Linked DNA regions of Homo sapiens. The protein of the gene in region 1 binds, or shares a complex with, the protein of each later gene. Each region holds a gene or a part of one and is shown on either strand. Other genes may lie near its edges. The genes, in order: LMOD2 and TPM1. A codon is read from its position in the direction of its gene.

Region 1 (3,911 bases):
AACATTTCAAAATTGTGGGTGCCCGGTCAGCAGCATCAGCATTACCTGGGATCTTCTTGGAACTGCAAATTATAGAGTTCCCGTCAATCTGATGAATGATAAACTCTGGGGATGGGGCCCAACAATTGGTGCTCTCACAGGTGATTATGACACACAGTAAAACTTAAGAACCGCTCAACTACAGTTACCTCCTGAATAACATGGGGGTCAGGTGAACCAACTCCTGCCCCTGCAGCATCCAAAATTCATGTATAACTTTTGACTCCCCCAAACCTTAACTACTAATAGCCTACTGTGGACAGAAGCCTTACCAATAACATAAACGGTCAATTAACACATACTTTGAATGTGATATGTACATACATAATAGGGAGGTGATCAGGAGAAACAACCGGCCACTCTTCTCATTACCTGATTTGTTTTCTAAGTTTACTAACATTCCCCTTCTCCTTGTCCAGTCCCTTGCCATCTCATCTCCCACCTCCTTATTCTATACCCTCCTTCCCACCTCCATTCTCCAAAGAATCAGGGTTAATGCCAAAGCAGTGGCATATAGGAAATCTGTAATAAAACAGGCCCCCTAGGGACAGAGTATTTTATAAAGTAAGCGAAGTCTGTTTTTTGCATCCTCTCACCTTGCCTCTGTAGACACCTTTTCCCCTTCTGTTCTTTCTCCAGATGTCCCCCACCTAGGGTGACTAATCATCTCAGATTGTCCGGAACTATCTAGATTTCATGACTAAAATCCTGGGAAACCCTTCACACTCAGGCAAACTGGGAGGGTTTATCACCTTTCTCCTGTGTGTAGTCCTGACTCTCAGCTGCTGTTAACCAATGTCAACTTAGAGCCATTCAGTAAGCAAATAATTATTGAGCTCCTACTACATGCTAAGCACTGTGCTAGGTGAGCAAAGCAGACATGGTCCACTGCTCTCAACAGCTAACAGTCTGCTGGGAAAAACAAGTGACCAAAATAAAGTGCGACAGGTACTTTATTGGGGGTGGGTACAATGGTATGGGAATGCGTCTGAGGGATATTTGGAGAGGATGTCAAAGAAGGCTTTCTGGGAGATCTATCATTTAGATGCTATATGACAATTCACAGTTTCAGATATTATCTGTCCAGGTACATTATAAGGGGAAAACAGATCTTGCAGATAGAGCCAGAGGGTCTTTAAAAAACCAAAGGGAGTAAAATGTAATGGTGTCATACAAGGCCGTATACCTTGGATTTTGAGACAGGCCCCTTTCCTCCAAATACTGAAACAGCTAAAAATACATACAAACACATGAACACACACAGCTTTACAGGGACTAGAATTATAAGGAATTTGGAGTGGAATGGGGTGAGGAGAAGTCAGCCCACAATTCTTTCCTTCCTCGGGTTAATCCATTTGTTTCACTGCTGGACAGGGAAGGCTTCCTCTCTTCCCTCACGTATGCCTGGAGACTTGGCTAGAGCCACACTCTTTTTCTTATGTTGTTGCATTGTGACTTGCAGCCAGCTGCCACCAAACATTTCTCTCTCTTTCTCTCTCTCTCTCTCTCTCCCTCTCTCTCTCTCTCTCACACACACACACACACACAGAGACACACAGAGTATCTCTCTCTCTCCCTCCCTGCTCCTGAAGAAGTGAATAAATTAAGACTGGAAAAGTCATCCCAGGAGTGGCTGACCCCTTCCCCAGGCCATCACTCGGTGCCTGCCACTCCAAACAGTGGATAACTGGAGGCTATTTTGTGATAGCAACTGGGCAAACGAACCTGGAGACAAGGGCAGTGTTTTCCAAAGCTAGATCTACATGCTTCAGGCAGCGGGCGCCCTCGAGGTCAAAAAAAAAAAAGTTGCCAATATAGAGAGAAGAATCAGGGCCTGGAGGACAGGGCAGGGTCCCAGGGCTGTAGAGAAGATAAAGAGAAAGGACTAAAAAGACAGCAGGAGAAAAAGATTAGACTCTGTCAGCAATTTCTAGACCTTTTTTTTTTTTAATCAGAAAAGATAGCAAGAAAAAGAGAAACAAGGGGTCACTTGAGCGTCTTTGTACAGCAAATCTTGTAAACAGGAAAGACAAAGATAGAATGAAATTGTGTTTGCCTGAAAGCCTTTCATAATTGATACATGCTAAATAATTTAAGACCTTCAGGCTGGGCAATGGCTTACTTCAAGATTTTCTGCTGTTCTCTGCTGTTCCATCCACTTTACTGATTAGAATCTAGTGGATGCCAAGGGTGATTATCTTTCCCACCTGGTCTTCTACAGTCTGTCTCATTTAACCCTGGACTAGTTGGAGGTTTCAAGTTGATTTTCCCAAAAGGGTGACCTGAATGTTTTCTCTGCATCGAACTGGATTTTGACCTCCTGCTGTCCTGAGCAGCAGCCCTGCCTTTAGGCTTCCCTTGCCCAGATAAGGGACAGCTACAGAGGCAGCTCTCAGGTGATTCAGAGAGTCTTCTGTGGTAGAGCCCTGTGCCGGGCTCTACCGTAGAAGCAGATAAATAAATGCTGGAGGAGCAAATGACAGCTCTGCTTCTGTCTACACTGAGGCAAGGCCTGGCAGAGAGTGGTTGGCTTCTGTCACATCTGCTATGGATGGAAAATTTGGGAATTTTTGAATTAAAAAGGGAAACTCATTAACATATTGTATATTTTTGTTGTCATTTGATTGCTTGAGATGGAGAAATAAGAAAGAACAGAGTGATTCCAGAAGGGAGGGTTGAATTTGCTACATTGTAAGTAAATGGAGAGTAAACCAGTAAGAGTCGGTCCTCAGGAGGTGAACAAATTTATCAAGGGTTTTCCAAAGCTGAAGTTCTGATTTATTTGTTCAAATTAGCAAAATGATTATATATTTTTATTCAATAAGTTGAATTCTGGATATTCTGCAGAAAACAAGAGAAATGTTTGTAGAAAAAGCTATTGCTATTTATTGCAATAAAATGTCAGCCTTGGTCATGAGAACTAGACAGAATGGAAGCAGAGGATTATTAACTTTTTTTATTATAAACTTATGTCACTTGCCATGTGCTACTTTTGCAAGTTAAAAAATGTACTTAAAAATGGTATCATTTTTAAGAAGCTTAATGATGATATCATACTCTTTAGGTTGCAGAAGACAAAGAGGAAAGTGAAGAAGAGCTTATCTTTACTGAAAGTAACAGTGAGGTTTCTGAGGAAGTGTATACAGAGGAGGAGGAGGAGGAGTCCCAGGAGGAAGAGGAGGAAGAAGACAGTGACGAAGAGGAAAGAACAATTGAAACTGCAAAAGGGATTAATGGAACTGTAAATTATGATAGTGTCAATTCTGACAACTCTAAGCCAAAGATATTTAAAAGTCAAATAGAGAACATAAATTTGACCAATGGCAGCAATGGGAGGAACACAGAGTCCCCAGCTGCCATTCACCCTTGTGGAAATCCTACAGTGATTGAGGACGCTTTGGACAAGATTAAAAGCAATGACCCTGACACCACAGAAGTCAATTTGAACAACATTGAGAACATCACAACACAGACCCTTACCCGCTTTGCTGAAGCCCTCAAGGACAACACTGTGGTGAAGACGTTCAGTCTGGCCAACACGCATGCCGACGACAGTGCAGCCATGGCCATTGCAGAGATGCTCAAAGTCAATGAGCACATCACCAACGTAAACGTCGAGTCCAACTTCATAACGGGAAAGGGGATCCTGGCCATCATGAGAGCTCTCCAGCACAACACGGTGCTCACGGAGCTGCGTTTCCATAACCAGAGGCACATCATGGGCAGCCAGGTGGAAATGGAGATTGTCAAGCTGCTGAAGGAGAACACGACGCTGCTGAGGCTGGGATACCATTTTGAACTCCCAGGACCAAGAATGAGCATGACGAGCATTTTGACAAGAAATATGGATAAACAGAGGCAAAAACGTTTGC
Region 2 (3,911 bases), on another chromosome or scaffold:
CTGGATATCGTCCACATGCCTGGAACTTTGTCACTGTTCCGGTGGCTGGGTTGACACACCGTGATTAAAGGGCTCTGGTCAATTTCTGTGCCACGCAGCCCCTATGCTAATGGTCAGATCTAATGTTCTGACCATTAGGTCAGTGTATCTTTTCCCTCCTGGGCAGTTAGGTTAGTGGAAGAAACCCGATAAAATCTTGGAGAGGAATTTGATCATTCTCTGAAGGACTTACAAGTTGTTTGGCCTGCCTAATCTGCTCAGATACCGTCCGGGGAATATTTGGTAACCATGCAGTACAGACTGTGAATTATTCTGTGGGGACTATTAACAAGACCCTCACCAACCCTGCCTCAGCTGATCTCAGGGCTTGGGGGCAGCCCCCTCTCCTCCCCTCCCACTGAAGCTCTGAAAAAAAGCAGCCTTTCCCCCTTGGGAGATGGGAGGAGTAGTTAAAAATAAGAAGTGTTGGGGGAAATCCTCCTCCTTCCAAGCACAGCTCACACGGCAGAGCCTCCTCAGAGTTGCGGCTGCGGATGCAATGACTTAGCCAGGTTAACGCCGATCCCATGTTTTCCGAAACCTGGCACCTAAGCATCTAACATGGAAGGCCGACTCCCTAAAATCAGTGCAAGAAAAATGATAACAAGTTATATCTGGAGGGACCTCGGGGATTATCTACCCGCTGGATTTAAAGTTGAGGAAGCCGCGGGCAGCAAACAAGGTCTCACAGTTGCTGGTGGCAGAGTAGAGACCACAGACCAAATTGCCTGAGTCTAAACTCAATGTTCTTTCCCCTTAGACTGCCACCCGCACACACACGCACACATGCACACCTTTTTGGAGGCACTGCACAGCAAGCACAGAAGTACGCCACTGAGTCCTGTGTCCCTAAAGTATTTGACTGTCCCTCCGCTGGGGGAAAGGGCAGGCAGAAAACAAGACTCCGTGTGCTGTCGCTGTGCCGCCCCCTGCCTCTCTGACCCGCGCCCGCAGAGAAAGTCTCAAGAGCCGCCCCAGGCTTTCTCCCACGTTCTCCCTTTCTCTGCTGCAGTTGAGTTTCCAGAGCGTGAGCGCGCAGGATGACACCTGGCTGGCTGAGAGCTGCCGGGGAGGCGCTGGCGGGTGCCGAGAGCGCACTGACCCTGACGCGGGGTGCAGCACGGCTGGGAAGCCCCCGGGCCTTTGGCTAAGCGCGCCGGGGGACGGCACAGGGGGGCGACGCGCATCCACCACCTGGTCCGCGCTCTCCCGGCCTCCGGCAGCTCAGGGCGGGCTCGGTTGGGGACCCTAATGGCTGGGTGCCGGCCCTGGGAGAAGGGCACGCGGAGGGCGGAGGGTTGCGCCTCGGCCCCGGCTCGGCCCCAACGCCCTCTCCCTGGCGCGCAGGTTTAGAAACAGGGCGGCCTCTCCGGCCGCCGCCTCGGCGGCTCGGGTCCCCATATATAGTCATATCCACCGTCAACTGGGAGGCCGGCGGCCGGCAGCGAATGGGCGAGCGGCCCCCGCGGGAGGAGCGGGGAGGGGGCACGGGGCGGAGGGAGGAGAGGAGGAAGGGGGGCAGGAGAAAAAAGCTTTTCCAAAAAAGTATTGGCTGTCTTGAGGAATGCGGTCGCCCCCTTGGGAAAGTACATATCTGGGAGAAGCAGGCGGCTCCGCGCTCGCACTCCCGCTCCTCCGCCCGACCGCGCGCTCGCCCCGCCGCTCCTGCTGCAGCCCCAGGGCCCCTCGCCGCCGCCACCATGGACGCCATCAAGAAGAAGATGCAGATGCTGAAGCTCGACAAGGAGAACGCCTTGGATCGAGCTGAGCAGGCGGAGGCCGACAAGAAGGCGGCGGAAGACAGGAGCAAGCAGGTCTGCGCCTCCCCGGCCCTGCGCCCGCGCCCAGAGCGCCGGGACTCGAGCCTGGCACCCCCGGCTGGATCCCCACCCCGAGGACTCGGGGAGCCACCACCCTACCCCCACCACCACCCAGGGCGGCCAGGGCGCGCGTCTGGAAAGAAGGAAGGGAAACGCAAGAGCCAGGCTTAGTCTAACTTAGTCTGGTCTGAGGACGCTTATTTCCCTTCTCTGGTTCCCATGGCCCGCGAAATCAAGTCCTAGAGGCGCTTTATTCTCAGGACTGGGAATCAGTTTGGGGGAGGGAGGAGGACACCCGGTTCCTGGGGACGTTTGAAGGAAGGGCGAGGGATGGAGAAAGGGGGTCGAGTAACTCAAGTGTTAGAAGTTCGTTGACTTTTGACTGGGGAGAAAGGAACCTTAAACTTGGGGAGGAGAAGGGAGTCCTGGAGTTGTTACCTAAGAACAAAGATGGGGCGGAATGGAGGCTACAGCCCGAAAGCCAGGCCAGCAGTGGCGTTCTTCTGTGTCCCCAAGTAGTGGACTTGAGCCCGCTGAGACCTCGGCAGGAGTCTCGTCCCAGGGCAGGTGGGTGTGCGGGGTGAGCCGCGGAGCGGTTCCAGCTCGGGTAAAGAGGAAGTTACCTCGGGTCCTTTGCACTCCAACTCGGCGGCGCCCCGAGCCCGAGGGGCCCCAGCCAACCCGACGCCCGTGTGTTGTGTGTGTCTAACACCCGGTCCGTGCCGGCCGCCCGCGCCCGCCCGCCGCTGCCCCCAGCTCGAGGAGGACATCGCGGCCAAGGAGAAGTTGCTGCGGGTGTCGGAGGACGAGCGGGACCGGGTGCTGGAGGAGCTGCACAAGGCGGAGGACAGCCTCCTGGCCGCCGAAGAGGCCGCCGCCAAGGTACCCGGGGCGCGCGGCACGGCGTGGCGCACGAATGGCTAACTCTTTCTCTTTCTCTCTCTCCCTCCCTGTCTTTCCCTCTGTCTCTCCCGCTGTCCCTGTCCTTCTGGTTCTGTGCACCCACACCCCTCCCCTTCGGGATCACGCTGCCTGCTGCACCCCCCTCCCTCCCTGTACCCCCTGGCCAACTCCCAGCTGGAAGATGAGCTGGTGTCACTGCAAAAGAAACTCAAGGGCACCGAAGATGAACTGGACAAATACTCTGAGGCTCTCAAAGATGCCCAGGAGAAGCTGGAGCTGGCAGAGAAAAAGGCCACCGATGTAAGTGCACGCTCACACTGCTTCCCTCACCTCTTGCCTGCGTGGCCACTCCGGGGTCACCACAGGGCTGGAGAGCAATGAAGGAAGTTTACCTTTTCCTGCTGGACACCTGCACACAGCCCTGCCATGGCCCAGAGCATTGGATGCCGCCTCTGACTGCTACTGCACACATTCATTTATATTTCATCCACTCCTCTCTTCTTCTCCTTTCCTTTACCTCCCTGGGGGTGGAGGTGGGTGGATGAGAGGCTGGGAGAATAGAGCAGCTGAAATTGGACTCTGGAGGTGAACTTCACCTCCCTGGTGGCAGAAAACCCTTGAGGTGTCATCACCAAGGTTTGTGTAGAGAATGCCAGGTTTTCTTCACTTTCTTTCCTTTTGCCGTTTCCAGTGGGTGGGAAGTTCTGGGTTTGGTGGTGGGTCTAGTCAGGGTTCAGAGAACCTGGCCTCTAAATGAAAGAAATGACACAGCGGTACCTTTACTTAGATGGCTGCACTTCATGGTGGGGCACAGAGACACTTTGAGGCTTCCTTTCTCATTAGTGTAAGCCTTAATCCACCCCTTAAGATCTGCCTGGGAAGATGATACTTGCTTGGGTCTGCAGTCTGAAGGCACTAGATCCAGAAAGTAAGCTGTGAGTTATATATAGCTCAGTGCTTTATATGGTATAGTGAGCTAGCTGCCCCCTGCCCCTCCTGCTGGCCCCGCCCCCACCTGTCAGCCTTCTGACAACCACCACATAGTTGCAGGGGTGATGCACACAGCTAAGGCTCTCCTAAGCTCTTTGTCCACTGCCCTTTGGAAGCTTTTTAATTGATAGCTTGCCTCTTCTGCCTCGGAAAGTCAAG

Evidence for each region.
Region 2: the proteins of LMOD2 (region 1) and TPM1 are in contact, whole or in part, in an NMR structure (PDB 6UT2), measured with the Homo sapiens proteins. Residues at the interface, in NP_997046.1 of Homo sapiens: Lys12, Tyr13, Leu21, Leu22, Leu25, Glu29, Glu32, Leu33, Arg35, Glu36, Leu37, Asp39, Ile40, Glu41; in NP_001018005.1 of Homo sapiens: Met1 (codon at 1,740), Ile4 (codon at 1,749), Lys5 (codon at 1,752), Met8 (codon at 1,761), Gln9 (codon at 1,764), Met10 (codon at 1,767), Leu11 (codon at 1,770), Lys12 (codon at 1,773), Asp14 (codon at 1,779).

Annotation. Positions count from the first base shown.
Region 1 is NC_000007.14:123,658,757-123,662,667, forward strand, and holds part of LMOD2 (leiomodin-2), read left to right. Parts: intron 1-3,103; coding exon 3,104-3,911. UniProt on the Homo sapiens protein: Mediates nucleation of actin filaments and thereby promotes actin polymerization. Plays a role in the regulation of actin filament length. Required for normal sarcomere organization in the heart, and for normal heart function.
Region 2 is NC_000015.10:63,041,091-63,045,001, forward strand, and holds the start of TPM1 (tropomyosin alpha-1 chain), read left to right. Parts: upstream 1-1,656; 5' UTR 1,657-1,739; coding exon 1,740-1,853; intron 1,854-2,615; coding exon of another isoform or gene 2,616-2,741; intron 2,742-2,903; exon of another isoform or gene 2,904-2,936; coding exon 2,937-3,062; intron 3,063-3,911. UniProt on the Homo sapiens protein: Binds to actin filaments in muscle and non-muscle cells. Plays a central role, in association with the troponin complex, in the calcium dependent regulation of vertebrate striated muscle contraction.